Linked DNA regions of Homo sapiens: all the other regions are reported to be linked to region 4. The links are microRNA targets in miRTarBase. Many come from high-throughput screens and were not tested one by one. Region 4 holds a microRNA gene; each other region holds the end of a gene's coding sequence.
The links. Region 4 holds the annotated microRNA hsa-miR-32-3p (CAAUUUAGUGUGUGUGAUAUUU, at 1,620-1,641, shown strand). A microRNA usually pairs through its seed, bases 2 to 8, with sites in the 3' UTR of a target mRNA and lowers its output. Matches are read on the target gene's strand: a 7mer-m8 pairs with bases 2 to 8, a 7mer-A1 pairs with bases 2 to 7 and ends in A, and an 8mer does both.

Region 1: the mRNA of SUMO2 is a reported target of hsa-miR-32-3p. Seed matches in the 3' UTR shown: 7mer-A1 at 726-732 and 7mer-A1 at 2,368-2,374.
Region 2: miRTarBase lists WTIP as a target of hsa-miR-32-3p. Seed matches in the 3' UTR shown: 7mer-A1 at 1,982-1,988.
Region 3: the mRNA of ZNF567 is a reported target of hsa-miR-32-3p. Seed matches in the 3' UTR shown: 7mer-m8 at 872-878.

Annotation. Positions count from the first base shown.
Region 1 is chr17:75,165,402-75,168,544 of GRCh38, reverse strand. SUMO2 (small ubiquitin like modifier 2) reads left to right here. Exons shown (of 4, transcript NM_006937.4): 4 at 144-2,959. The coding sequence ends at 206. Among named protein-coding and RNA genes, the nearest start is that of JPT1, 12 kb to the right of the region's middle.
Region 2 is chr19:34,499,954-34,503,096 of GRCh38, reverse strand. WTIP (WT1 interacting protein) reads right to left here. Exons shown (of 8, transcript NM_001080436.2): 8 at 1-2,968. The coding sequence ends at 2,828. Among named protein-coding and RNA genes, the nearest start is that of WTIP, 20 kb to the right of the region's middle. RefSeq lists a silencer at 1,228-1,287.
Region 3 is chr19:36,719,999-36,723,119 of GRCh38, forward strand. It overlaps ZNF567 (zinc finger protein 567), which reads left to right. Exons shown (of 6, transcript NM_001322917.1): 6 at 1-1,338. The coding sequence ends at 670. Among named protein-coding and RNA genes, the nearest start is that of ZNF567, 34 kb to the left of the region's middle.
Region 4 is chr9:109,044,729-109,047,871 of GRCh38, reverse strand. It overlaps MIR32 (microRNA 32), which reads left to right and starts at 1,574; the gene lies at 1,574-1,643. All of the region lies in intron 14 of TMEM245 (transmembrane protein 245), which reads left to right.

The DNA of each region.
Region 1 (3,143 bases), not on the chromosome of region 4:
TACATTAAGCTATGAGACATCTAAAATAATGAAACTTGGAACTTAGTGGAACATGTACATGTTTTCAGCATACTTAAACCCAAAAATCATTAATTTTCAGAACTTAATCAGTGCTTTTACATTTGTTTTTTCTTTTATGCTAGTTGGAAATGGAGGATGAAGATACAATTGATGTGTTCCAACAGCAGACGGGAGGTGTCTACTGAAAAGGGAACCTGCTTCTTTACTCCAGAACTCTGTTCTTTAAAGACCAAGATTACATTCTCAATTAGAAAACTGCAATTTGGTTCCACCACATCCTGACTACTACCGTATAGTTTTCTCTATTCTTTCATTTCCCCCTTCCCCATTCCTTTATTGTACATAAAGTAACTGGTATATGTGCACAAGCATATTGCATTTTTTTTTTTTTTAACTAAACAGCCAATGGTATGTTTTGATTGACATCAAGTGGAGACGGGATGGGGAAAAATACTGATTCTGTGAAAATACCCCCTTTCTCCATTAGTGGCATGCTCATTCAGCTCTTATCTTTATATTCCAGTAAGTTATTTTGCTCTCACTGTTTTAACAAAAAAAAAAAACAACAACATAAAAATCCTTGCATACCTTGTTCAATTGGAGAATTTTAATGTTTTTCATTTATCATTGTAAAACCAAGGACAATTTTATAACTTTTTTGTACGTAGCTGTTACATGTAGGGCAATCTGTCTTTAAGTAGGGATAAATTACTCTAAAACAAAAAAGAATCCTAGATAGTTTTCCCTTCAAGTCAAGCGTCTTGTTGTTTAAATAAACTTCTTGTTTAAAATGAGCTGTTTTCTTTATTCTGAGAAATATTAAATAGAAAATTGAGGCTTAGAAAAAACATAAATAGGCCTGCTTAGAAGTAACATTTCAAGAAGGAAATAAAGCTACTTGGTGTTTCTGACAGACTGATACTGATGCCAAACAAAGAATAACAGTTTTATAAATATCACCTTGTTCCAAAAGTTTCTCTAGGTCCCATGTTAATATGCAAGTATACTAGCAGAAAAATTGGGCCATAGTATCGTGGATTTCCAGGTATTTTCTGTATATTAAGTGAGGCACGGAGCATAGGGTATAGGGTAGCACATGTGGCAAGGAAAAAGTTCTGATTTTGCCTTTGTTGCTGATAAAACACTGAACCATTCTAGCCTGCACTTATCATAAGTAAATACTCCCTAACCTAAAATAAAGTTTTCGTTCCTTATTCAAGGATTTTTTTTTTGAGACGGAGTTTTCCTCTTGTTGCCCAGGCTGGAGTGTAGTGGTGCAATTTCAGCTCACTGCAACCTCAGCCTCCTGAGTAGCTGGGGGGTCATAGGTGCATGCCACCACGCCCAGCTAATTTTTTTTCTATTTTTAGTCGAGACAGGGTTTTATCACGTATGCCAGGCTGGTCTCGAACTCCTGACCTTAGGTGATCCACCCGCCTCAGCCTCCCAAAGTGCAGGGATTACGGCATGAGCCACCACGCCTGGCCTATTCAAGAATATTGAGGGACAGAAAATATCTATATATATCCATCCTCAGAACCTTAAATATACAGGTCACTACAGTCTTTATTATTTTAATTTTTGTTTCTTAGGGTTTCTTTTGGTGGTGGTTTTTTGAGATGGAGCATCATTCCGTCTCCCAGGCTGTAGTGCAGTGGCACAATCTTGGCTCACTGCAAGCTCCGCCTCCCGGGTTCACGCCATTCTCCTGCCTCAGCCTCCCGTCTTAGGTCTTTTTGAAAGAGGTTATGCCTCTGTTGCCTAGTCTGGAGTGGTGCAATGGTGTGATCTTGGCTCACTGCAACCTCCACCTCCAGGTCTTAAGAGATCCTCCCTGCTCAGCCTCGTGAGTAGCTAGAACCGCAGGTGCATGCCACCACAGCTAATTCTTGTATTTTTTATAGAGAGTGTTTCGCCATATTGTCCAGGCCGGGCTCAAACCCCTGATCTTAAGTGATCTATCTGCCTTAGCCTCCCAATGTGCTGGGTTTACAGGCGTGAGCCACTATGCCCAGCCCCTTTTTAATTTTTTAAAAATGTTTATTTTTGAGATGGAGTTTCGCTCTTGTTGCCCCAACTGGAGACCAATGACATGATCTCAGCTCACTGCAACCTCCGCCTCCCGGGTTCAACTGATTCTCCTCCCTCAGCCTCCGGAAAAGCTGGGATTACAAGCATCTACCATCATACCTGGCTAATTCTGTATTTTTAGTAGAGAAGGGGTTTCTCTATGTTGGTCAGGCTGGTCTCCACCTCCCGACCTCAGGTGATCTGCCTGCCTTGGCCTCCCAAAGTGCTGAGATTACAGGCTTGAGCCACTGTGCCCGGCCAAATTTTTATTATTTTTAAATTAGAGGTGGGGTCTCACCATGTTGACCAGTTTGGTCTCGAACTTCTGGCCTCAGTCCCTTGTCTTGGCCTCCCAAAGTGTTGGGGTTTCAGGTGTTAGACCCCATGCCCAACCACTACAGTTTTTGTTTTTGTTTTTGTTTTTTTTTCAGACGGAGTCTTGCTCTGTCGCCCAGGCTGGAGTGCAGTGGCGCAATCTTGGCTCACGGCAAGCTCCACCTCCCGGGTTCACGCCATTCTCCTGCCTCAGCCTCCCCAGTAGCTGGGACTAAAGGTGCCCGCCACCATGCCCGGCTAATTTTTTTGTATTTTTAGTAGAGACAGGGCTTCACCATGTTAGCCAGGCTGGTCTCAAACTCCTGACCTCAGTTCATCCACCCGCCTTGGCCTTCCAAAGTGCTGGGATTACAGGCATGATCCACTGCGCCCGGCCTCACTGCCATTTTATAGATGAGAAAGCCAAGTTCCAGAAAAGTTGTGAAATAGACGGTGACTATAAAACTGGGACTAGAGATAGTATCCTAATGCTTGTTGATTGTTTTTGTCCATACTGATTGTCAACCTACCAATATAATCTACCATCAAGTCACCATGTAGTATTATGTGTTATTTCTCTTAATCTGCTGTACCTTTGTTTTTTGTTTTTTTGAGACGGAGTCTTGCTCTGTTGCCCAGGCTGGAGTGCAGTAGCGCGATCTCGGCTCACTGCAAGCTGCCTCCCGAGTTCACGCCATTCTCCTGCCTCAGCCTCCTGAGTAGCTGGGAGTACAGGC
Region 2 (3,143 bases), not on the chromosome of region 4:
GCTGTGATGACTCAGGCCAGCTGGCAGGAGCGTGCATGGTGACCGGGATGGAGCAGGGTTCAGTGAAGCAACCCCATGGATATAAGCACAGGGCCCACCATGGCACATGCAAAGGAAGGGGAGGAGAAGGACCGGGTTGGCAACAAGGAGAAACCCGGCTCAAAGCAGGTTTGAGGGAGGAAGCAGAGAGGACAGTTCAGAGGACAGCTTTGCAACTGACCAGTTAGAAGGCAAAGGAGCCCAGGCCAGGCACGGTGGCTCAAGCCTGTAATCCCAACACTCTGGGAGGCCAAGGTGGGCTCGCTTGAGGTCAGGAGTTTGACACCAACCTGGCCAACATGCTGAAACCCCCTCTCAACTAAAAATACAAAAAGTAAGGCCAGGCACAGTGGCTCACGCCTGTAATCCCAGAACTTTGGAAGGTCAAGGCGGATGGATCGCTTGAGGCCAGGAGTTCCAGACCAGTCTGGCCAACATGGTGAAACCCCGACTCTACTAAAAATACAAAAATTAGCCAGGCCTGGTGGCGCACACTTGTAATCCCAGCACTTGGAAGGCTGAGGCAGAATGCTTGAACGTGGGAGGCAGAGGTTGCAGTCAGCCCAGATCACGCCACTGCACTCCAGCCTGGGCGACAGAGCTAGACTCTGTCTTTAAAAAAAAAAAAAAAAAAAATAGCTGGGCGTCATGGGGCACACCTGTAGTCTCAGCTACTGGGGAGGCTGAGGCATGAGAATTACTTGAACCCTGGAGGCAGAGGTTGCAGTAGGCCCAGATTGTGCCAACGCACTCCAGCCTGGGCGACAGAACGAGACCCTGTCTCAAAAAAAAAAAAAAAAAAAGCCGGGCACAGTGGTACACACCTGTAATCCCAGCACTTTGGGAGGCTGAGGTGGGTGGATCGCCCCTGAGGTCAGCAGTTGGAGACCAGCCTGACCAACATGGTGAAACCCCATCTCTACTAAAAATACAAAATTAGCCGGGCGTGGTGGCGTGCGCCTGTAGTCCCAGCTACTCGGGAGACTAAAGCAGGAGAATTGCTTGAACCCGGGAGGCGGAGGCTGCAGTGAGCCAAGATTGTGCCACTGCACTCCAGCCTGGGTGACACAATGACACTCCGTCTCAAAAAAAAAAAAAGAAAAGAAAAGAAAAAGCAGCTCAGCTAGCAGGAGAGAGCCAGCACCGGAGCCTCCACGCCTGGACTTTACTCTCTGGCCCCAGTGGGATCACCTCCTCCAAGAAGTGGCCCCTGGTCCTGCTGAAGGCCCCACTCTAAGATGCAGCGCTCTCCACGCTGTGTAAGTCCCTGGCTAAGGCTCCCTGACCACCCCTGTACTTGCCGGCTCAGCCCACCAGGTGGCGCCCGCGCCATGCCTCGGCCCTGCTGGACTCCGAAGCCGCCACTTCCCTGCGGGCGCCTCCTGGTGTTTGTTCCCTTGGGCTCGGCCTGGACAGCCCTGCTGGTTCCCGGAGCCTAGCCCAGCCCCGCGAGTGATTCACAGAACTCACACCTGACGGTGGGGGAGGAAGGGGAGAGCAGCAGCCAAGAGGTGGGTCCAGGCTCTCCCAGGGGCGAGTGACTTCAGTCCAGATGTCCCCTGAACCCCTGGGGATTCCGCATCAGGACCAGGGCCTCCCATGTCCAGACCCCACATTCCCGTCAGTGTGTCCCGGGGAGCACGGAGGGACCTCCACACTGCATTTCATGGGGCGACCGCCCTTAACACCCGGACACACACGGAACCCCACACTACCCTAAAGTCTGAAAGGTGGACACGCGTGGCGAAGTTTTAGAGGAATTTCAGGACAAAAGTCCTGAAACCACAAGGTTCTTACCACCTGAAAACCAGCTCCGTAACAGACAAACTAGACACTTGTGAGTTTGCCGGCATTTGCTTTAAAAATAACAAGGCTGGTCCAAGATCTTAGAAGAAAATTATATTCTTTTAAAGAAAATGAAAATATCCTCAAGGGAAAAACTTAATTTAAGTCAAATCTTGTCCTTTTGTCGTGGAGCCCCTTGCCCCGCGCGCAGACACAGGCTTTCCTGAAGCGTGGCCAGGGCGCCCCTCTCATCGCTCCTGAGCGTGACCCGGGGCTGGAGCCGCACGGGGATTTTCCCGAGCTGAGCAGGGGGGTCGGGGGGCCCAAGCCAGGAGCCCTGGAAGAGGGAGCAGGGCGGCAACTGGGGCCGCAAACACCCATCAAAGTCCCCAGGACCAATTCCCACAGACACCACGTGGCCACAGGCAGTGCCCTTTGCAGGCCCCCTCCCCAAGGGTGTCACCCCTCACCCCCTCCTGGGACCCCGCCTAAACCAGGCACCCTTCCACCCACCAGCAGGAACTGCGCTAGGAGATGCAGGAACACCCATGTCCCCGCCAGCCCCGCCTTCCAGACCACACCCTGCCCGGGAGTGCGCTTTGCGAGGTCGGGGTCGGGGGGGAGGGCGGGGGCCAGGCCCCTGAACAACAGACAGCAGCTCCCACCCAGCAATGCAGCCGGGTCACCTCGCACCCCTGGCCAAGGCAGGGGCCCTCTCCAGCCTGGTGACCCACGGCCTACCCTGAGGCTGCAGGGCACAGGGGGCCTCCAAGTGGAAAGCTGGTGATGGGGTGGGTGGGAGGCAGGGCCCGCAGGGAAGTGACTTGAGCAGGCACAGACGGTGAATAAATAGAAGCTTCCACGCGGGGGTCCGGCCCCTGCAGACAGCAGCTCGGTGGGAAACTGATTGGAGGGAGCTCCCCTGACGCTGACCAGGGCCACCCACGCGGGCCCTCCCTCCACACCCACACCCACCCCGGCCCAGGGACGGGTTTTCCCCTGCTCAGAGCTCAGTGACGTGCACAGTGGGTGAGGGAAGAGGCCCAGGTTGGAGGCGCCGCAGGTGGCAACGACGACACAGTAGGTGGCCCGCCAGGGGATAGCAACGGCGTCCCTCCTCCCCGCTCAGCTGCAGCCCGCAGTCCTAGGGAAGAACACAGCCCCCAGCCCCAGAGTCAGCAGACAAGCGCACATCAGAGGTCACGGGACGGGGGAGGGACGGAGGGGAGGGGCAGATCTGCAGGGTGCCGCAAAACAACATGAAGACTCTTCCGCCGGGCGCAGGGGCTCACACCTGTAATCCCAGCACTTTGGGAGGC
Region 3 (3,121 bases), not on the chromosome of region 4:
ATGTGGGAAATCCTTCTCCCAGAAGACAACCCTTGCTCTTCATGAGAAAACTCATAATGAGGAGAAACCCTATATTTGTAGTGAATGTGGAAAGTCCTTCCGCCAGAAGACAACCCTTGTAGCACATCAGAGAACACATACAGGGGAGAAATCTTATGAATGTCCTCACTGTGGGAAGGCCTTTAGAATGAAGTCATACCTCATTGATCATCACCGAACTCACACAGGAGAGAAACCATATGAATGTAATGAATGTGGTAAATCATTCAGTCAAAAGACAAATCTCAATCTACATCAGAGAATTCATACAGGGGAGAAACCCTATGTTTGTAATGAATGTGGGAAGTCCTTTCGCCAGAAAGCAACCCTCACTGTACATCAGAAAATACATACCGGCCAGAAATCCTATGAATGTCCTCAGTGTGGGAAAGCCTTTAGCAGGAAGTCATATCTCATTCATCATCAAAGAACTCATACGGGAGAGAAACCATATAAATGTAGTGAATGTGGAAAGTGCTTCCGCCAGAAGACAAATCTTATTGTACATCAGAGAACTCACACAGGTGAGAAACCCTATGTTTGTAATGAGTGTGGTAAGTCTTTCAGTTATAAGAGAAACCTCATTGTCCATCAAAGAACTCACAAGGGAGAAAACATTGAAATGCAATAAATGATGTGGTTTCTTATATGAATTCTTTACAAGCTGTTGTAAACATTTAGTTTTAAAAAGAAAAGCATGCTGAAACATGTTAATGTAATTTTAAATCACAAGTCTAATAATTATTAAAGTACCATACGGAATAACTGTCTACTGTTTACTAGCATATAAAATAAGTATGATCATTATTATTGAACTCTATCAGCTATGAAGCTAAATTTTAAAGTCAACTGCTCTTCCTACTGACTCAAATAGTTTATTTTTTAAAAATACTTATATAATACATGCAGAGACAAGATACACAATGATTATAAGTATTAATCTCCATAAGAGAAAATATTTATGAACTATATTTCTCATTGCACTCTGTAATAAAAAGCAGTTAGTTGTTACTTACCTAAGAGTTACCACTTCCGTAGCCTATAACATCAAAACGTAGTTTTTGCATGTTTTCAATTTTATAAATATATATTTTATCAGACATCATGAATTATTTTGTGTCTTGCTTATTTCACTCAATTTTTTAAGATCTGTACATTATTGCATGTGGCAGTAGTGTATTTTCATTTTGCATACTATTCCATTTTAAGAATATATTGCTGTTTATCCTATTGATGGATATTTGTATTTTTTATACTTTTGTGTAATAATAAAAATACTGCTGTAAATATTCTTGTTTATATCATGTGTGTGTTTGCGTGTATGTATTTCTGTTGAATTTATACCTGGGACTGGACTTATTCATTCCAAGAGTATATATGAGGTTTTTTTGGTCATTCAGACTGGAGAATTTCTACTAAAAAGAAACCTTGCGGCTTTATAATTGTGAGAAGGCTATTAATAAATCATGGACATGTGAATGCAGTATATGTAGAAGGCCTTTAGCTGTCTCTCAATGCTTAAATGCAAAACAAGCAAATTCGTATTGGAGGGAAATCTTGTAGTTGTCATGATTTTAGGGGTACTTTAGCCATAGCTTATTACACCTTATTTAATATCAAGGAATTAGAATTCATACAAGAGAAAGGGACATTGAGAAGGGAAATAGGTGAGGAAAATTTGAGAGTACCAGAGTCTTTTTTTTTTTCTTTTTTTTTTTTTTTTTTGAGACAGAGTCTCGCTCTGTTGCCCAGGCTGGAATGCAGTGGAGCGATCTCGGCTCACTGCAACCTCTGCCTCCTGGGTTCAAGTGCTTCTCCTGCCTCAGCCTTCTGAGTAGCTGGGATTACAGGCATGTGCCATCACGCCCAGCTAATTTTTGTATTTTTAGTAGAGACGGGGTTTCACCACGTTGGTCAGACTGGTCTCGAACTCCTGACTTCATGATCCGCCTGCCTCGGCCTCCCAAAGTGCTGGGATTACAGGGTGACCCACCACGCCTGGCTACAACATAAGCCTTTTCTACCATAATCTATAAGAAATGTAAGTCTCTGAAAATCCCAAATAAGTGACTAGAGAGATTTTGATGTTTGAGAATTGGAAATCTGCGAAGACAGTGACTTCCACGGTATCCTTTTGGCGAGGAGAGTAAGCTCAGTGGCAACTTGAACAGCATTATTGCAGGTCCTTCTTGGGAAGGATTACTTATAACCAGTATTTACTATGTATATGAAGTCATTGTAATAAAATTCAGTAGAAATTGAAATTTATTAATTAATTTATTTTTTGAAATGGAGTCTCTATCGTCCAGGCTGGAGTGCAATGACATGGTCTCAACTCACTGTAACCTCTGCCTCCTGGGTTCAAACGATTCTCCTACCTCAGCCTCCCAAGTAGCTGGTACTACAGGCACGTGCCACCACACGCAGCTAATTTTTGTATTTTTAGTAGAGACAGGGTTTCACTGTGTTGGCCAGGCTGGTCTTGAACTCCTGACCTCGTGATCCATCCGCCTCAGCCTCCCAAAGTGCTGGGATTACAGGCGTGAGCCACCGTGCCCAGCCTGAAAATTGTTTTTTAAAAGATTTAGAACTGTAAACCATATCTGCATAAACAGAAAGATGGTTCAGGGTTCAAATATTTGACATTAAATATATTAAACAGACCCTCTGGCCTGTTAGAGAGGGACAGCCATTGCCAATCAGTAGTAAATGGAACCATTCTTGTCAATCCTTATTTTTCTGATAATTTCATAGCAAAAAATGAACAGGGCAATGAGACAAAAGCATAAAAATTTAGACTTGATAGTAGCACACAGAAAACACACGTGTGTGTATGTGTGTATATATGTAAAATGCCTTGTCTATAATGACTAGACATGTCATTAAATTTAGCCTTAATAATTTATATATGCATAAAGATTTTTTAAAGTATACATTTTTAAAGAATATAAAGAATTATTAATAGGTTTAATAAACCTATTAAAGTAACTAAAACAGGTAATTATAGGACTTATAATCAGAACTGTGAGAACCCAAGGATTTTGTCATTGTGAATTTATAGGGGAGTTATATACTAGTATAT
Region 4 (3,143 bases):
ATTTATTGTAGCAGCCATATCAAAGGCTGGTAGGAATTCTCCAGTCAGTGTGGCTTAAGCCAAGCTTTGCAGAAAAATATCTACCTTGTTCATAAAGAACTTCAAGAAAGATGATGCTTCCATTTTCCTCAAGTAATCTTCATTGTTACTGACTCTTATTCTTAGAAAAATGTTTCTATTTTCACATCACAGCTTTTGAATTTTCTCTTGTTCTGCTTTCTTACAGCAGACCATCCTCTAAATGTCTGTCACCTTTTTTCATACCAAATATGCCACCTTTTTTGTTTTAAACTTAATTCCTAGCTGTTGTGTTTGCCAGTCAGTGGTAAGTAAAGCTGTTAGTCACACCTAGGTTCAGCTGATTGAAAGCACATACTCTGTTACACCATGATGCCTTCTTTCAAGAGGAGCTGGTTAGGGAAGATCATGACTTATATTTGTGGACATAAGAGGGTGGCATTTAGAAATTCAGGTCTTTGGCTCAGGAGAGAATTTGAGATTACAAAGAGTGCTGTCATCTACAGCGATATGAGGAAATCAGTCTTTTACAAATTAGATTCGACTTCCCTTCTTGGGAGTGCATACACTAATTATGTATTATAACAGTAGCTTATGTCTTGGTTCCATAGTATACTGGCATTTAAAAACCATTTGTTTTATTATCACCTTATTTTAAATACAGAAAAAATTTTAACAACCTTTGGTACCAGAACTATAATCTAATGGTTCTCAGAATTGATAGATTTTTATGAGTCTGATAAATATGGTACAGACTAAAGAATGGGTTATGGCCTGAGACATTTTTCTAACCAAAGCTATATCAAGTTATGTAATTTTAAGGCTATAATTCAAGGTGTTTTTTTTGCAGTTTAAGTTCCTAGGGCTGTTTCTTTACTGGCTCAAATTCAAGACTTAAAATGTACAGATTTTACAGAGATTCCTCTGAAGAGCTTTCTCCTGTGGAGAAGATGGTAGTGAGTTCTCTTTCTAAGAGCTCCTGTTGGATTTTTCATCCTGAAGGTTTGTGTTGAAGAGGCAATATGTTTCTTCATGGAAAAAGATTTTGAGGGAAAAATAAGTGGTTATTTATAATTTATGAATGACTATGAAAATATTGTAATGTCCTCAAAGTGCAGTTTAGCCTACAAATATCAGTGATACCAACTTTTATAAGCATCAGTCATTAATCATCATCTATGTTGCAGCTAAGTGGAAATCATTACATTCATTTATATGATCTGTGAATAAGTCAAAAATGGAATTGAAATTGGGGGTTAATTGCATGACCAGACAGTGATAGTGTCTGTTCGTGAAGCTTTGCCTTCTGAAGTATGTGGTTTCTTTATGATCACTATCTCATTGAAGTTTTGAACCTTACTCATTATTTTGATTCTGAATAAGTATTCTTCTCAGTTGAATACATTTGCAATTGGGTTTTCATTTCATGAAGTTTTGAGTCAGTGGCATGCATCCTTTATCCCCAGACCATTTTCCTCTCTTCAGCAGCATGTTGTCTCCTGAATGTATACATCACACCCTTCTTCCCTGATGCTCCCATTCTGCTTGCTCTGGTGGAGATATTGCACATTACTAAGTTGCATGTTGTCACGGCCTCAATGCAATTTAGTGTGTGTGATATTTTCACATGAGTGCATGCACACGGGTATGGCTCTTGCTTGCTGGGATTACAGCTTTTCAGTGCCAGTGGGTGGGTGTCCTGATGAATTAGATAAGACAGTGTGTATGCCATGCGATTCTCATTTGGAAAGTGAACATGCTTCCCATCGGTACCTTCCAATTTTGGAGAATTAAAAGTATTTGGATTAAAAAAAGTCAGCAATGATCATTTAGTAAATCAGTGTTTCCATTTTTTACTTTGAGCAAATGAAATATTTATTACAAATTCTCATTGATTTAAGAGTATAAACAATATTTAAATGTATAAGGAAGAATGTAAAGCTGTAAGAAAATGTATTTTCATTTATTTGAAGAAATCTCTCCCAACACTGGAATAGAGAAGCAGAAATCTCTTATGCATATTTGGGGAAATTAAATTAACTGGAGTTCTTAAATAATAATCAAGACAGTAAAGGTATGCTTAACCTACCTGATGAAAGATTCATCTCATAAACTTAAGTTTCCAAGGTAAATTACCTTAAAAATGTGTCTTTTACTTTCTCATTGTGATGCTTCGAAAACTGCTAAATTCATTTTAGTGGGCTAATAATGGAACTAGTTTTGAAATACACGTTTACTATTTGCCTATGTAATTGAAACAACCCCTTGTTATTTTTTTAGTTAGCATTAGAGTAAGCATCCACAATCACTAGGCATTGTCAAGGACACAAAACCATGTATTACTGTATGAAAATATTGAATTAATATTTACTACTACCATAGCCTCCAGATGATCTATTGTGATGCTGTCATTGTATGTTTCTGTGTTTCACCACTGTTTTGGAGGGTGAGAATGGAAGAATTCCACGTAAGCAGCTCATCCCCTGTGCCCTTCAGCAGCTCGGCCGTTCCCCTCATGCTGGAAATCTAATGTCAGCCAGGTTGCTATATGACACCCTGTGGAGCTGGGTTTCCAGGGCAGATTAATCAAGAAAGGGAAGATGTGACCTCTCAAGGGAGGTTGGGGCTGGGAAGGGGTGGGTAGAGAGAGATTTGTTAAAGGATACAAAAATTACTTAGAAGGCATAAGTTCTAATGTTCTACAGCACTGTAGAATGACTGTAGTTCAACAATAAATTATATCATTTCAAGTAGCTAGAAGGAAGATACAGAATGCTCCCAACAAAAGAAATGAGGCCAGGTACGGTGGCTCACGCCTCAAATCCCAGCACTTTGGGAGGCCAAGGCGGGCAGATCACCTGAGGTCAGGAGTTCAAGACCAGCCTGGCCAACATGGAGAAACCCCATCTCCACTAAAAATACAAAAATTAGCTGGGCTTGGTGGCATGCACCTGTAGTCCTAGCTACTCGGGAGGCTCAGGTGGGAGAATCTCTTGAACCCAGGTGGTGGAGGTTGCAGTGAGCTGTGGTCATGCCACTGTACTGCAGCCTGGGCGACAGTGAGACTCTATCTCAAAAAAAAAAAAAAAAACCAAAATGATAAATGATCAAGATGATGGATATGC